Linked DNA regions of Homo sapiens: region 1 is linked to region 2. The links come from fine-mapping of genetic effects on gene expression. A gene starts in region 2. The other region holds a variant in brackets. All regions are shown on one strand. Distances are from middle to middle.

Region 1 (8,326 bases), 83 kb before region 2:
TTCTTTTTTCTGTTCCTTCATTTCTTCCCATCTTTCTTCCCTTCCTTCAGCATGTGACAAAAATATGAGGATCGGATCTTTTCTGGCAGGAGGAAAGAAGAATGATGGGATGACATCTAACGCCTTGCCGGGCTCCAGCAGTACGAGGCAGCCATGTGTCAAAAGTCAGAGACACAAACCAGCACGTGCCCCTCTAATCACAGAGTCTCAGTGCAGGTCCTCCTGCCATTGCTCTTCCAGCCAGCCCACAAGCCGGGCAGACAGGGTGCCTCCGCCTCCTATTAGCAAGCTTCTAAATGTGGTTTGTTTTCCATGGAAAGATTGCACATCCTACCAATAGGCTACATCTATGATAACACTGAGATTGTTACTAAGTCTGAAATTGAAAATAATCCACATTTGGTATTTTCAAATAATATTTAGTAGTTGAAATCTAAATAAATCAAAATTATTTTAGGCTAGGTGCGGTGGCTCACGCCTGTAATCCCAGCACTTTGGGAGGCCGAGGTAGATGGATCACTTGAGATCAGGAGTTTGAGACCAGCCTGGCCAACATGGTAAAACCCTGTCTCTAATGAAAATACAAAAATTACCTGGACGTGGTGACACACACCTGTAATCCCAGCTGCTTGGGAGGCTGAGGCAGAAGAATCCCTTGAACCTGAGAGGCAGAGGTTGCAGTGAGCCAAGATCGCGCCACTGCACTCCAGCCTGGGCGACGGAGCGAGACTTCGTCTCAAAAAAAATAAAAATTAAAGGCCGGGCCGGTGGCTCACGCCTGTAATCCCAGCACTTTGGGAGGCTGAGAAGGGTGGATCACGAGGTCAGGAGATAGAGACCATCCTGGCCAACATGGTGAAACCCTATCTCTACTAAAAATACAAAAATCAGCTGAGCGTGGTGGTGCACATCTGTAGTTCCCAGCTACTCTGGAGGCTGAGGCAGGAGAATTGCTTAAAGCAAGGAGTCGGAGGTTGCAGTGAGCTGAGATCACGCCATTGCACTCCAGCCTGGCAACAGAGCGAGACTCTGTAAAATAATAATAATAATTTAAAAAAAGAAAATTAAATAAAACATATTTTAAAATAAAGGTATTTGGGGGAAGTGTGATTTGCAGACTCTTAAGATATAAAGTCCTTCATAGACTTGAAGAAAATTTATGGTAAGTTAGACTTTAAAATAATTCATTTGAGCTCTTTCCTTTTGCTGCTGTGGCCGCAGCCATGAGCACGCTCAGGCTTCAGAAGAGGCTCGCTGCTAGTGTCCTCCGCTGTGGGAAGAAGAAGGTCTGGCTGGACCCCAAGGAGACCAATGAACTCGCTAATGCCAACTCCCGTCAGCAGATCTGGAAGCTGATCAAAGATGGGCTGATCATCCCCAAGCCAGTGACTGTCCATTCCAGCTCGATGCCGGAAAAGCACCTTGGCCCGCCGGAAGGGCAGGCACATAGGCATAGGTAAGCAAAAGGGTACAGCCAATGCCCGAATGCCAGAGGAGGTCACGTGGATGAGGAGAATGAGGATTCCGTGCTGGCTGCTCAGAAGATACCGTGAATCGAAGAAGCCTGATCGCCGTATGTATCACAGCCTGTACCTGAAGGTGAAGGGGAATATGTTCACGAACAAGCGGATTCTCATGGAACACAGCCACAGGCTGAAGGCAGACAAGGCCTGCAAGAAGCTCCTGGCTGACTAGGCTGAGGCTCGCAGGTCTAAGACCAAGGAAGCACGCAAGCGCCGTGAAGAGCGCCTCCAAGTCAAGAAGGAGGAGATCTTCAAGACTTTGTCCAAGGAGGAAGATACCAAAAAATAAAAGCTCCCCCGTTGTCCGTACATACTGGCCTCCGTGATTACATAGATCAGCCATTAAAATAAAACAATCCTTTAAAAAAATCTGTTTTATTGAGGTATCATTCACATACAATAAAATGGGTCCACTTTAAGTGTCTTTTTCAATGAGTCTTGACAACCATTCGTGCTGCATTAACAGCTGCGGCCATCAGGATGCAGAACACTTCCATCAACCCAGGGAGTTCTTTCCCACTCTCTCCAGTCCATCCCCCACCCTCTCCAGTCAATCCCCACACTCGTGCCCCATGCCGTTTTTTTTGAGATGGAGTCTTGCTCTGTCACCAGGCTGGAGTGCAGTGGCGCGATCTCGGCTCACTGCAACCTCCGCCTCCCAGGTTAAAGCAATTCTCCTGCCTCAGCCTCCTGAGTAGCTGGGATTACAGGCGTGCGCCACCACACCTGGCTAATTTTTGTGTTTTTAGTAGAGATGGGGTTTCACCATGTTGGTCAGGCTGGTCTCAAACTCCTGACCTTGTGATCTGCCCACCTCGGCCTCCCAAAGTGCTGGGATTACAGGCGTGAGCCACCACGCCCAGCCCCTGTGCCATTTTTAAAATCACTGTAGAGCAGTCTCACCTGTTCTAGAACTTCAGGATTCTTCAGAGAAACCGTGTATGGAATGAGCTTTATTTTCAGGAACTCACTCACACAATTGTGGAGGCTGACAAGTTCAAAAACAGAGGGTGCACAGGGTGAGCAGGGCAGGCCGGCAGGCTAGCTCAGGCAAGGGCTGATACAGCAGCCTGGAGGCAGAATTTGTTCTCCAAGAAACCTCAGTATTTGTTCTGAAGGCCTTTGATTGATTGGATGAGGCTCACTCATATTATCAAGGGTAATCTCCTTTTCTCAAAGTCAACTGCCTGTGGGTGTTAACCACATCCACGAAACACCCTCGTGGCAATACTTGGCTTAGTTCTGATGAAATAACTACATACTATACCCTCGCTACATTGACACATGAGACTAAGTATGATAAAATAAAGGGGCGCATGCAGCTTGCACGCCTCCGTGTCTGGCTCCTTTCATTTTCGTAATATTTCGGGGACTCATTTGGGACTGCTGTTTGTATCAGTAGTAGCTCATGCCTTTTAGTTACTGAACAGTACTGCCTTCTATGATTACAATAGGCTAGATTCTAATACACACCAGGCATTTTCAATTCAGCTGTGAGATCTGAAAAACAATTTTAAAAAATAAAATTGCTGTCAATACTCAGAAACTTGTAAACACCAATTAGAATCCAAACAGAGAAATTCATTGAGCTATTAGGTTGGCGCAAAAGTCATTGTGGTTTAGCCAAATATTTTAAGTTTTTAGCATCATAAGAAGAATAGTTAAAAATCTCTTTTTAAAAAATAGTTAAAAATCTCTTGCTGGTCAGCTGATGCACAGTGGGACGCAGGGAAGGCAGCCCCCCAGTCTCAGGAATATGTTACTTTTGTGGCTATATCTTGTTTTTAGTTTAATTTAATGGGAGCTAATGAACCAGAAAATACATTCTAAACAAAAACTAATTATCTTGTCATCACTTCAAAAGACATATTTAACACACATTAAAGCAGTTACATAGGAACTAAGAATAAAATCCTACATCCCCCACTGGCTGAACGAACACCCCTGTGGCCAGGGGGGGCCCCAGGAAAACCTCAACACTGAGGCTATAATGGGGGATGGGAGGTCAGACAGGCCTCCTGATACCCCCGCCCTTTTGTGGTTTGGACACAACAGACCAGCGTTAACGTTAAACTAGAGACCATAAGACTGACAGAACGGACTCTGTGGCAGTAAGATGCCAAATCATAAACAGGGCCTAAGGCCGTGCGGGGGGAGGGTGAAGCCACGCACCGCACACTTACAGAGAAAACGTCGTTCCCACTGCTGTTGGGTTTTCCTTCCCTCCAGCAGCTAAATAAGCACTGGCCTTGATAGGAGCAACATTAAGCAACTGCAGCTCCACCAGCCACTAAGTGACCCCCAGCCCTGCTCCAGCAGCCGTAACTACAGCTTTCATTGGACAGAAGACTGTAACTGTCTCCTGATAAGAAACCACCGACCTTGGACTGGTTCTGGCCGGTTTACAGAGGTTGCACATCTGCATGCCTTCCTGTCCTGAAAAGACCTCTTGAGGTACAGGGCCTAGTCCTAATTTACTTATTTATTTATTTATTTATTTATTTAGAGACGGAGTCTCGCTCTGTCGCCCAGGCTGGAGTGTAACGGCACGATCTCGGCTCACTGCAACCTCTGCTTCCCAGGTTGGAGGGATTCTCCTGTCTCAGCCTCCCAAGTAGCTAGGACTACAGACATACGGGCGCCACCACGCCCAGCTAATTTTTGTATTTTTAGTAGACAGGGGGTTTCGCCATGTTAGCCAGGCTGATCTCGAACTCCTGACCTCAGGTAACCTGCCAGACTTGGCCTCCCAAAGTGCTGGGATTACAGTCGTAATATATTCAAATGTTTAGTCTCCCCGACAGAGTGAGATTGGGTCCTATGTTACATAATACACGTGTCAGGA[G/C]CCCCTTCCTGAGTATTCATAGCTCCTCCCAAAGCCTGTTGTCTATGTATGTTTAGCCAACCCGTTCAGCATAGAGCTCCTGCCCCAACTCCTCCTCCTACGAAGAGCCATCTCCCATCTTGGCCTGGGGGATGGCCACCTTGCTGGCTGTAACCATTTATAAGAAATAAAGTTCCTCTTTTTCTAAATTTATAAATTGTCAGGTTTTTAAGTTAACAAATAAAAGAGATCTGGTCATTAATTCAGGTTTTCAAGTGTCTTCCTGGGCAGATAGGCTAAATCTACATTTTAAAAACAAGATTACAGCCCCATTTTTCTGCTCTTCTTCTCCTCAACAGAGAAGTAGGTATTCACTGCCTCTAGTTCCTCTCCTGCCACTGTCCCCAGAGCCCTCTGCAAACTTGTGATCTGAGTCCATTCCATAGCCACCGCTCCGTCCAAGTCAGTAATGGCCTCCCAGTCCCTACAACCAAATGGTCACTCCTGTATACTCATCACATAGCATCACAGAGCAGCCACTCCCTCCTGTCTTCAGTGGATCCTGGAGATGGGTTCTCCAGGAGCCCACCTCGCAGGCTGCTCACTCATCCTCCACGTCCTCACCCCTTCAGGGCTCTGTCCTTGGTCCTGTCCCCCATCTGTCCTCCCTCCTGAGGTGACCTCACCCAGTTTCCTGACTTGAAATGACCTCTAAATGCTCTCACCTTGATGCTCTGGCTCTGACTTCCCTGTGTGCTCCCAGCCTGTCTGTGCAACAGCACTATGTGTTGACAGCGAACCTCTGGTCGGGCTGCACCGCCCCCACCCAGCTGTGCCTTCTGCTGCAGAAACTCCATCCTTCCAGGTGCTCAGACCACCCGAGAGCAGGCATTCCTAAGTCCCTGCTTTCTCTCACACCGCATCTTTTCCATCAGCAAATCCCAGGGGCTCTGCTGTCGAAGCACTTTTCTCTGAAATCTGACTGGTTCTCACCACCCCACCCCATGTTCACCACTCTATCCTCATCCCCATGCCTGGTCAGCCCAGCTGGCCACCTGATTGGTCTCCCTGCTTCCCCTCTTTGGGTCCCCACAAGCTATTCTCAGCAGAGCATCCAAAAGCCCAAGTCCATCACGATCGTCTTCTGTTCATGAGCCCATCTCATTCAGAGTCCAAGTCCCCTAAATGGCCTGCCCACTGTCCATCCTCCTCCACTTACCTCCCTGCCTTGACTCCAACCCCTGGCCTCCCCTCCACTCACTCTGCACCCACGCAGCTTCTGGCTGCCTCCTGCCCATGCCAGGCATGGCCCTCCTTCCTGTCCTGGCACTTGGTGGTCTCCCCTTCCTGGCCAAGCTTTCCTAGACGTCTGCATGGTTTGCTCTTTATCCTTGAGTCTTCTCCAGTCACCCCGTGCAAGACTCCAACTCTCCCCATACACATTTCCTTCTTCCCTGATTTTTCTCTCCAGCTCCGACTTATTATGTATTTATTTCCTTATTGTCTGTCTCCCCCACTGAAAGGTAAGCTCTACCAGGGCTGAGATTTCTCTGCTCTGTTAACCTCTCACCCCCAGGGCTGTGGAGTGTGCCGCACGTGGCAGGAGCTGTCAATAAATAATATTAATGGAGTGGACGAATGTTCCTGATTTGCAGCGACTGTCTTTTAGTGGTGCAATACCATCAGTGCCCACCGCAGCTACCCTGAAAGAAGTTCTGATTCCGGACATCAATCCCATAGGGACAGTCCCCCTGATGATAGCTCGACTTCAGATTTTTCAACTTTACGACGGGTAGATTGGGTATTAGATGCATTTTTGACTTAGGAAGGGCTTATTTGCGGGGAGGGTAGCCCCACTGTAAGTCGAGGAGCACCCATGATCGCTCAGTATGCCAGAGAAAACCACCCGCAAATGAAACGATCGGCCCTGTTTCCCTAAGACTGCACTGGGAGCTCCAAGAACCCCTAAGGTAGCCATCTGGTGAGCAACGGTGCGCTCCGAAAGGGAGGTGGACAGGATTGGGAGACCGAGGCCGGCAGATGGCTCGAGCCCAGGAGTTCGAGACCAGCCTGAGCAACATAGACCCCCGTCTCTACAAAAAATTTAAAAATCAGCGAGCCTGGCGGCGCGTGCCTGTGCTCGCAGCTACTTCCGAGGCTGAAGCAGTAGGATGGATTGAGCCCAGGAGGTCGAGGCTTTTAGGGAGTCGAGATCGCGCCCCCGCACTCCAGCCCGGGGAACAGAGCGAGACTCCGCGTCGGGGGCAGTGGGCGGGAGGCAGCGCTCAGGTACGGCGCGCTCAGGTGAGGCCGGCCCACATGCCCGCCCACCGCCGCCAAGCGCGTCCTCCATTGGCGGTTCCACGGAGAACCCACGTTTCCATTGGCCGATGCGGGATGGGGGCGTGTCCGGCCAAGCGGCGCCCTGAAGGCGTGTCCGGCCGCAGCTTAGGCTCTCCGGGAGTCCCCGGAGAGTAGGGGCGGCCGGCGGCGCTAGTCTTCTGGGGAGCGCCGGGTGCACACCGGACCACTGCGGGAGGCCTAGGGCCGAGGGCCGAGGAGCTGGCCTGCGCCCGGCGACCCCGGCTTCCCTCCGCAGTCGCCCAGGCGTCCCTTCCCCCCTACAGCCGAGCGGCGCCGGGCGCAGGCGCATTGGGCGCCCCCGGCAGCCCCCGCGGCCCGCCCCGTCCGCTGCCCGTCCGAGGAGGCGGAGGGCGATGACGTCATCGAGCGGGGCGACGGGCATTGGGCGCCATTTTGAAAAGGGAAAAAAATCCCTCCCCGGCGGCGGCGGCGGCGGCGGCGGCGCCGGCGGTGGTGGCGGCCCCGGGGCTGAGCGCTCGGCTGCAGCGGCGCGGAGGCCGTCTCCCTGGTCTGCCGCGGTCCCCGCCCGTCCCGCCGCCGGCTGCCATGGCAGGTGAGGGGTCTGCGCGGGCCGGCGGGGACCACGGGGGCGGGCGGGGGCCGCGGCCGGCCTGACCGCCCCGTTGTGTTTGCAGGAGCCGGAGGCGGCGGCTGCCCCGCGGGCGGCAACGACTTCCAGTGGTGCTTCTCGCAGGTCAAGGGGGCCATCGACGAGGACGTGGCCGAAGGTGAGCCCCGCGCCGCGCCCCGCCCCGGGACCCTCGCGGACAGCTCCCAGCCCGGCCGCGCGCGGCCTCCGGGCCCCAAGCGTCCGTGGAAGGCAGGCAGGAGGATGGGGGCCGGGCGGGGCAGGGGCCAGGGGCCGAGCTGGGGGCCGTGATCGGGGGGCGGCCGTCCTCTGTCCGCTGTCCCGGCCCGCGGGGCACGGGCGGAGGCGTCGGGCCCGCGGCGGGACTTATGTAAGTCACCAAGGTCACGGGCGGCCGGGTCCTCCGAACCCAGCGCCTGGGGCTGCCTCCTGCCCGGGGCGGAACCGAAGCCCGGGGCTGCCTCCTGCCTGGGGCGGAACTGAGGAGACCGCGGCGGAGCCGGGGACGGGAACGGAGTCCATATCGTGCGCTCGGGCAGCGCGGCACAATGGCCCAGAGGCTGGGAACGCGCCTAGGGCTGGGTCGGGGCCTCGGCCCCCACCAGGCTCTGCGTTTCATCGGCGGTGCGCTCTTGAGCGAGCTGGTTGCCTCGGCTCCCTGATTCTTAAGGTCTGCTTTCTGCGGTTCTAAAATCCTTGAATTTTACTGTGAGGTACTGCTACTTTCTCTACTGATATATTTTAAGGTCTCTATTCCAGATTTTAGTCTTGAACTTCATGGTATTACTTGAAGTTCACTGGTCTTTTCCTTAAATCATACTCTCAAATTGGCCCAGGCACAAAGTTTTAGGGTGGTGGGAGGGAACTGGGAAGTGCCTCCCACCCCAGCTTCCCATGAAGCTTACCTGTCACCTTAAAGTTAAAAAGCTATGTAGCTTTCCTTTTTCACCGTTGAATGGAGAACTTGGTCGAGTCTTAGAAGTTTGATTAATATTTCAGATTCAGAGTCATAGTGACTTTTTTGTT
Region 2 (8,326 bases):
GGAGGCCGAGGCGGGCAGATCATCTGAGGTCAGGAGTCAGAGACCAGCCTGACCAACATGGTGAAACCCCGTCTCTACTAAAAATACAAAATTAGCTGGGCGTGGTGGGCGCCTGTAATCCCAGCTACTCGGGAAGCTGAGGCAGAAGAATCCCTTGAACCTGAGAGGGGGAGGTTGCAGTGAGCCGAGATCATGCCACTGCCCCCCAGCCTGGGCAACAATAGCGAAACTCTGTGTCTCAAACAAAAAAAAAAGACACTGCTCAGGAAGCCCCAGGGGTTTAGGTGCTCTGCACCAGGAAGTAGGTAGGGTCAAGACCAAACACATACTGTAATCTATCACACAAGGGGCAGGCTGAAGACAACAGGGAGAGGAAGATGAAGGAGAGACAAGTGTATCTCTGTCATCCTCTGCGCTACTGCAACAGAATCCCACAGACTTAGTGATTTACGAACAGAAACTGATCTCTGTTCTGGAGGCTGGGAAGTCCAAGATCCACGCACCAACATCTGGTGTCGGCTGAGGGCCTTCCTGCCTCATCCCTTCAATGAGGCTACAGAGGGACCCACCTCCCTCCATCCAGCCCCTTAGAGCACTAATCCCATTCACTAGAGAGGAGCCCCTATGGCCGAGCCACCTCTTAAAGGCCCACCTTTTACTACCATCCCACTGGCAACATGGAGGAACACATTCGAACCAAAGCAGTGCTTTTTAAACATCACCCCAGAAAGGACCTAAAAATCCAGGAAACAAGGAAAAAAAACTCACTCCAGATTGTCCATGGCTAATGACTTTGGGCCCAAAAGCTGTATTCCCAGGAATGATTTACTAAGGGACAGGAGTTTTATTATTAACCCACAGCAACCGCGTAGGAAAGGAAGGCACTTCCTGGAGAATGGAGCGTGCTGTGTATCTACTCACGTGTTACAGTTCTCCACTCGGATCGTTCACCTTTTCAAAGAAAGATGGGCTTACAGTAAGGTTGCTTAATAACCTTAGAAAACTTGCTCATAATCACAAGCAGTTTACACTTCAAATCACTGTAGTATAATTAGGCCCCAGACGGAAAGGTGCTGCTGTTGCTGCTGCAAGAAAAGCCCTCCTTCCTAATCTCATTTCGCGTCCCTCTCATGTTCCTCCCCCTCCTCACTCACTTATAATTTACATTGCTAACAAGACACACAGCCAGTAAATCTTACCTCCCTCCTATATCAAGGTAGATGAGATTTTGAAAAGCCTAGACTATAAATATTTATATCACAGTACAAAAAGAAAACTGATAGGTCTGCCTCAGAGACAAAATACAGTCCAACAAGAGTTCTTAATCCATTTCTTATTCTCACTTTGTGTAAAAAAAAAAAAAAAAAATCATCTGACATCCAGCTTTTCTAGGTGCCCAAAGCAGTTCTCCCTCCAGTGACAGACTCCAGGGAATCCCTTCGATTCACTGCCCTCTGTATGTCCCAGGGCAACTCCCTGGGTCCCATTCCTCAACATGGATTCATGGGCCACAGCCACGAGCCCCACGTGGAGTAAACACAGGGCCAAGTTCTCAAGGCCACCCTATGCCCTAACCTGGGGTGACAACCTCAACTCTGGCTATGAAGGGAGAATCACCTGTGGTGTTTTTTCATTGTTCTCCAAAAGCCTAGCCTCAGCCCACTCTGAAAGTGACTATTTGGGATGCTGGGGTGGAATCCAGGCAAATAGATTGAAAAAGCTCTGGGATAAATGTCAGAACAGAGGGAGGCAGCATCCCAGAAAAAAAACCTGAAGCAGAGGAGCTGTGAACCCCCGAGGGAACTAGCACCCCAAAACCATACAAAGGGCTTCTTCCCCAGGGGAGGTGGGCTCTAAGAAATTGCTGTTTTACCTTTAAAGCTTCTCAGGTTAGTGGGGAGAGAACAAAAGAGACCCGCCTGACAAAAGATTTCAAGTATCAAGTCAGCTGGGTAGGTAAATCAGGTCCCTGGCTTCCAACGGGGCTCGTTTCCCTCCACCTTCCTGTTGCCTCCAGGACCTCTGGCCTCCTCTCCTCCAGGACCCTCCAGGGCCTATTGCACGCAGCCTCAGGCATCTGGGCTCCAGGTATCCCACTGCTGCCTCATGCAGAGACCTTGGCTTCTCCTTAAGTGTTGTTGCCAGCCTTATCTTTCACTCCACCTCTAGAACCTCATTGTGACCATCTATGAAATGCAAGTCTTGGACGAGAATCTCGATGTCTGCAACCCCTTCAGGTCTCAAAGCACACAATGCTACAACTCCACTCCAAAATAAGTAGAAAACATCTTTTCCCCTCATACAACTTTGCCCATGGTGAGTTGCCTCTGACAAGAGAGAGAACCATCTGCCAGTTGCAGACACAGCAGTGGGTGAAGAGGTGAGGGCTTGGATTATTAAACACGGCCCTCCAGAGTAAATGGGCATGCACTTTACTGAACTGATGCCCTCCTGGTGAAGACAGTGGGTCCTTCAAGGAAGTGATGCCCCCGCCACCGTGACACGGTCTCGTCACAGAATCCTACCTCTCCTGCATGTTAGCAGTGACATGTCTAGGAGAAAAGGGCCAAGTTCATGGCTACAGTGAGCTATAATGATTGTGCTACTGCACTCCAGCCTGGGGGAGTAAGACTGGGCTTGTAAAAAAAAGGAAAAGGACAAATACGAGCATCCTGCGAGTCAACAACTTTAGCTAGAATGATCAAGAGATAGAAAGGAACAGAATCAGCCCATTTTGCCATTAACTCTTTAGGAAAAGCAGTTGGCCCCAGAGGGTACACTCAGAGGAGAGAGTGCTTGCTGCTTCCATCCGTGGGTCTGGCTGCAAGGCTCCCATTGTTCTCTGTTCCGAGGTCAACAAGGGGCAGTGAAATCGGACAGGCAGAGGTGAGCGCTGCCTGAGCCACCGCTCCGTCCCGGATTTGCAGGCAGCTGGAGCCCGCGGGACCGGCCAACCCCGCCCACGCCGAGCCCACAGTGGCCCCGTCCTGCCGCGCGGACACTCAGGGCGGCCCAAGGAATCGCCTACATGGGATCCACCCCGCGGGTAACTATCTTTTTATAGAATAAACAAAACAGAAAAACAAAAATCTCGTAACTCCGGCGCTGGCCGCCTTGCACTGCCAATGACTCAGCAGCCTGTGTAAGTTACATATTGGAGAGAGGACCGAGCCCCCCGGAGCCCCCTCCACCTCCCAGCGCCCAGATCCCAGCCGGACAGTGAAACGCACAATGTCAGGAGTAACGCGGCTTCACAACCGGAAAATGGGTGATTTTATGGCAAAGAGTTTATAAAAACATCCCTTGGACTTTATTTTATGACAAAAGATAGGAAAACACCTCTTAATCTATTTCAAAATAGTAATTAGCCAATGTTTAAATTTCAAGAGGAAAAATCCGAATTACAGGATTTTAAAGAATATGGTTTTAGGCCAGGCGCGCCTGGTGGCTCAGGCCTATAATCCCAGCACTTTGGGAGGCCGAGGCGGGAGGATCGCTTGAGCCCAGTTCAGACCAGCCTGGGCAACACAGTGAGACCCCGTCTCTTAAAAAAAAAAAAAGGTAAAAAAAAAAAGCTTGTAGTGTTCATATGTATATATATATATTATTCAATATATTACGGTAACTAAGTCCTGCCTAGTAAAATCTTTTTTTTTGTAATAAAATTAGCAACTCACTAAATTTATGTGAATATATGGTTTTAAAAACTCTCAATGAAGATTAAAAGTTCACTGTCAGAGGTTTCAGCAGTCCTTTCCCAAGCTTATTTACATGCTAATTTTGCTTAGTAAACTCTGGCTTCAAAGAACACAAAGGTCAGCTGCCACCAGGTCCCTCCTCCGAGGCTTTGGCCCTAGGGACCCTGGGAAGGCGGCTTCAGTGCCCGCTTCCCTGAGCAAAGGCTCGTCTGGACTCTGACGCGGACCCACCGGGTGGGGTGGGTCTCCACGCCACCCGGCTGTGCGTGGGGCAAGTCCTGCACCCCGGGCCTGCGTTTCCCGCTGCGTGAACGGATGGTCTTGCGAATCTAGCCAAGGGCACACAGCGAGCCTCTACTCGGGCATTAGGCAGGCTGTAACGACTGAGTGCTGCACGGGCAGCGTCCTTTTGCTTGTGTTTTCTTAACCCGTAAGTCATTTAAAGCTTTGTTTTGGAACGACCCTCTAGTGAAATTGGAACATGCCCATTTAATGCCATATTTTAAAAACGCTGTAACCCCCTCCCATCTCCGCGTTCACCCTTGAGGAAATCCTAACAGTCACCATGGATATAAACATTAATAACAAAATTAAAGCTCATAACAGGCCACTTGCCACGCCTTGGTGTTTGGTCATTAAAACCAATACTGGTCTGAACTACAGACCGCGGAGGGCAACGTGGACTTTGAGGCTGTTCGGTCCAACTGCGAGACGCAGATTCACCTCCAGGTGGAATTCTAGCTCGCGCGGAGCTGGAGAATCGGGGCTTTCCCGTGCGGTCCGACCCGGGTCCAAGCCAACCCCCGCCCGAGTGGCGAGGCCGCGAACCCCGGGCAGTACGCGGGGTCCCCACGCCCCGGGCTCCGCATGCCCGCAGGAGGGGTGGGTACGGAAGGGGAGGATGGCGCAGCCTCGCCCGGCCCGCGATGCCCCCTAGGCCTCCCCGGCAACCTCCCCTTGGCGCCCTCTTGGCCTTCCCCAGGCTTCCCCCCCGCGCCCCCTCGGCTCCCGCGCCGCCTCCTCCGCCTCACCCTGCAGGCTCTCCTCCTGCATCCCGGGCGCTCCGTTCTGCGACATGGCGCCAGAGGGCAACTGCGGCGATCGGAGTCCGCGCCGGGCTGCGGGATGTGCTTCAGCTGCGGGCGGTGGGAAAGCGGAGGTCGGAGCGCCGCGGCCCAGCTGCGCTCCCGGACTGAGCGGAGCCCCGCAGCCCGGCCGGAGGAACTCACAGGGCAGGGCGGGGCCGGGCGGATCTGCGGCCGCGTCGCCCATTGGCCGCGACTTGGGGCCTGCGCGTGCGCAGGGGCGTGGGGTGCGTGTGGCACGTGCGGCGCGTGCGCGGGGCGGGTCCTGCGGTGGGCGAGGGGCAGAGGCCTGCGGTGCGCGGGACGCGGGCGGGGAGAGGGGCGGGGCGAGGGGCGCGCAGGCGCGAGGGCGGCAGCGACCGCCTGAGGTGAGCCGGCCCGGGCTGGACGCCGCGGGCCGCGTGACGAGTGGGCTGCGCGGTCGCCGCCGCGGCGGGCGGTGGGCCGGGTTCTCCTTTGAAGGGGCGGTGGGACCGGCGGACTCTCTGGGCACTGGCTACCACGGAGACGCCGCTACGCTTCGGGGCGGGGCCCGTCTTTCCATCCTGCTAGTGGGGAAACTGAGGCGCGGGGCTGGCGGCGTCCGTGCGGGGGGCGTGAGGACGTGCAGGGAAGCGGCCGCTGCGGCTCCGAGACGGCCCGTGGGGTCGGGACCTGCGCCCGGGGCGGGAGCTGCGAGCGGTGGGCCGGAGCTGAGCGTCTCGGGACGGGACCGCGTCCCCGGGTCTTTGCCCGCCCCGCCGGGGCGCCCCTGCGTGAACAGCGGGGCCCGTTGTGTCCGGGGCGTCCGCCCGCAGGAAGAAGCGGAGGCTCGAGCAGAGTCGAAAGAGTCTGCCCGAGGGAGGCGCGGACCCCAGGGGCCCGGGAGAGGCGCGCCGTCCGCCTCTGCGGCAAGGGGCCTCCGGGGTGCAAACGCGGTGTGGGGCGGGCGTCCCCGGGGTGGGACGCCCCGTCCACGGGGCGGAGTGGCGCTTGGTCGGGCCGGGTGGGTGCCCGGCTTCCGTGGGAGCCAGCCTGGCGTGGGGGCCTCGCAGCCTCGGGACTGGGAGGCACTTTTCAGAGGAAAGTCGCTTTCTCATTTCCCGCTTTTGATCAAAAGTCTTTCTTCTTGAAAGCATTGTTGATCCAAATCCAAGTGTCAAGGTGCGCCCCAGAAACGCTGCTTCCCAGACAGTCGTGTCTGGTCTTGCGGGAAAGGAGGAGGCGTCCCGCCAAGGAACCAGGCGCTCAGAAGCTGAACCGGGGTCACAGAGCCGCGAAGCCAGACCTCAGTCGCTGCGTGCATTTCATCCCTGCTCTTGCCTGTTGAATCGTCTCTAGTCTTTGGAGTGCCATGATTTTAGTTTTCTCAGGAGTAACAAACATCCAGAGGCCAGTGTGGGGCGCATGTCTTTCATCTCAGCACTTTGGGAGGCCGAGGCAGGAGGATCGCTGGAGCCCAGGAGTTGGAGACCAGTCTGGGCAATATGGCGAAACGCTTTCTCTCCCCTAAAAAAATACAAAAAACTTAGCTGGGTATGGTGGCACCTGCTGTGGGAGGATTCCTTGAGCCCAGGAGGTAGGGGCTACAGTGAGCCATGATCAGGCCACTACCCTCCAGCCTGGGCAACAGTGTGAGACCCTGTCTCAAAAAAAAAAAAAAAAAAACCGCCAGAGATACATAGCATAGCATTAATAATTTCGATAGTAGAACTGTAGTGCTGGCCAGGCAGTGGTTCTTGTGTGTAATCCCAGCATTTGGGGAGCCCAAGGCAGGAGGGTCACTTGAGCCTGATAGTTCAAGACCAACCTGGCAACACAGAAAGACTCCATCTCTATTAAAACAAAAATGTTACCAAGTACGGTGCACATAAGGATTACAATGAAAAAGAGAATGTGTATGCCAGAATGAAAAACGGAACCTATTCGAGGGAGTCAACTAAAAGTATTACGAAGAAAATCAAATGGAGAATTGTTCAGAATAGTGTAGCCTAGTGGCTTGTACTTTTTCCCATATGAGTTTCTACTTCGTGGAAAGGGTTTATGCACATCAAGAGGTATTTGCCACCATACATAGACTTGCTTGCTCAGCTAATAATCGAAAGCAATGCAGTCGTCCAGTGCAGCCTTAGCCAGTGAGTCAGTAGCTTTTTGTTGGGCTGTGATGGAGGCAGCAGTTTCATCAGCAATATTTCCTGATAGGCCAGATATGCTCGCAGTCATCCCAAGTAAAAGCAAACAAATACTGACTCTAGGTCCACTGGAATACTAAAGAAGGCACTACATAAATGAGTCACAGTGTCTCACTTCCAGCTGCCGAAAGAGGATGGGGCTTTGGTACTACCAGATGTCTGGGGATCACAGTGTTGATGACGGTTCTCAAATCTTGTACAGAATACCAGCTCTTCCCATTCGGCTTCCTTACAAGAAGGATTGGAGTATTACATGCTGGCGCAAGGAATAATTAGACCCCTTTTAATATAGTCTTTTGTTACGGATCTTATTCCTTCATTTGCTTCAGGCCTTAGAGGATATTGTCTGATATTGGGTAAAGGATTAATCAGGTTTACTTCCACTTTAATGAAAGTGGCTGAATATATTTTACTAATGTCGGTGGAAGACTCTGACCATAAGTGGTCTGACAAAGCTTGCCCTAAGCCATCCGTGTCATTAGTGCCAGTTGAAAAAAAAGTTGTTTGATCTGTATTTTTATAATTTCAGTAATTTCTCATTCTGTAGTTTTTCCATTTGCTCCTTCCATTCTAAACCTAAATCCATTTCTTCCTTTTGGGAGAAGGAAAGCATGCATTGTGACGTTCCAACACAAAATGTCTGCCTAAGAGATGTCTGAGAGGTGGGGGAATGAAGAAAAGAATGAGGGCCCTGGGATTCTAAGGGCTTGGACTTGTATCCAGTGATAGGCTGATGAGATAACCCTACCGTTTGTACAGTTCCATTACTCCAAGGAAGGAGACAACTTAAAGTGGACGAAAAGAGTGGCACCAGTGTCTTTGAGGGCATGTGTCTGTTCTTCATTTATGGCAATGTCCATTTCTCCTAAGGCATTAGTAGAAATAGGAACACCTCCCTTCGATCATCAGAGCAATCCTGTTCATCATGTGGGATCCTGGTTTTTCACTGGTCCTGCTGTTAAATTTTCTACAATCTTTTTTGAAATGGCCAGGCTTTTTACAGTAGAAGCAAACAGCCCTTTTGTCATTAGAAGGAGGCCCTGTCTTTTCTTAAAAGGCCTCATTTGGTTAGTCAGTTCTTGTAGTTGCAAATTCATAATCTTTGAGACCTTAGTTTTTTTCTTCCTTCTGAATTGTCTTAGGAAGTTGATCTGCATAGCTTACTAATTTGTGGGTTTGTATATTCACCCGGTTAAGCTGGTATCTTTTTAACTTAGGTAACCAAACCCTCACTTAAGCCACTGAGGAAAGTAGAATTTATGAGGAGTCATTCTAATGATCTTGGAGGCTAACAGGCATTCCAGAATATTATTTAAAGGTTTTTACAAACCCTTCAAAACATCTAAGCAGAGATTTGTCTGACCTTTGAGTA

What was found. PIP is the estimated chance that this variant, and not a neighbour inherited with it, causes the effect.
Region 1: its variant is fine-mapped to the expression of BNIP3 in whole blood (INTERVAL, PIP above 0.99).

Annotation. Positions count from the first base shown.
Region 1 is chr10:131,893,892-131,902,217 of GRCh38, forward strand. PPP2R2D (protein phosphatase 2 regulatory subunit Bdelta) reads left to right here and starts at 7,117. Exons shown (of 9, transcript NM_018461.5): 1 at 7,117-7,264; 2 at 7,347-7,439. The coding sequence starts at 7,258. It also overlaps the pseudogene LOC100134362. RefSeq lists an enhancer at 6,377-6,476 and silencers at 6,717-7,226, 7,297-7,696, 7,877-7,926. The variant G/C (reference allele first, on the strand shown) is at 4,369.
Region 2 is chr10:131,977,032-131,985,357 of GRCh38, forward strand. BNIP3 (BCL2 interacting protein 3) reads right to left here and starts at 4,892. Exons shown (of 6, transcript NM_004052.4): 1 at 4,730-4,892. The coding sequence starts at 4,775. RefSeq lists an enhancer at 4,071-4,995 and silencers at 4,403-4,632, 4,863-5,162, 5,213-5,402, 5,443-5,562.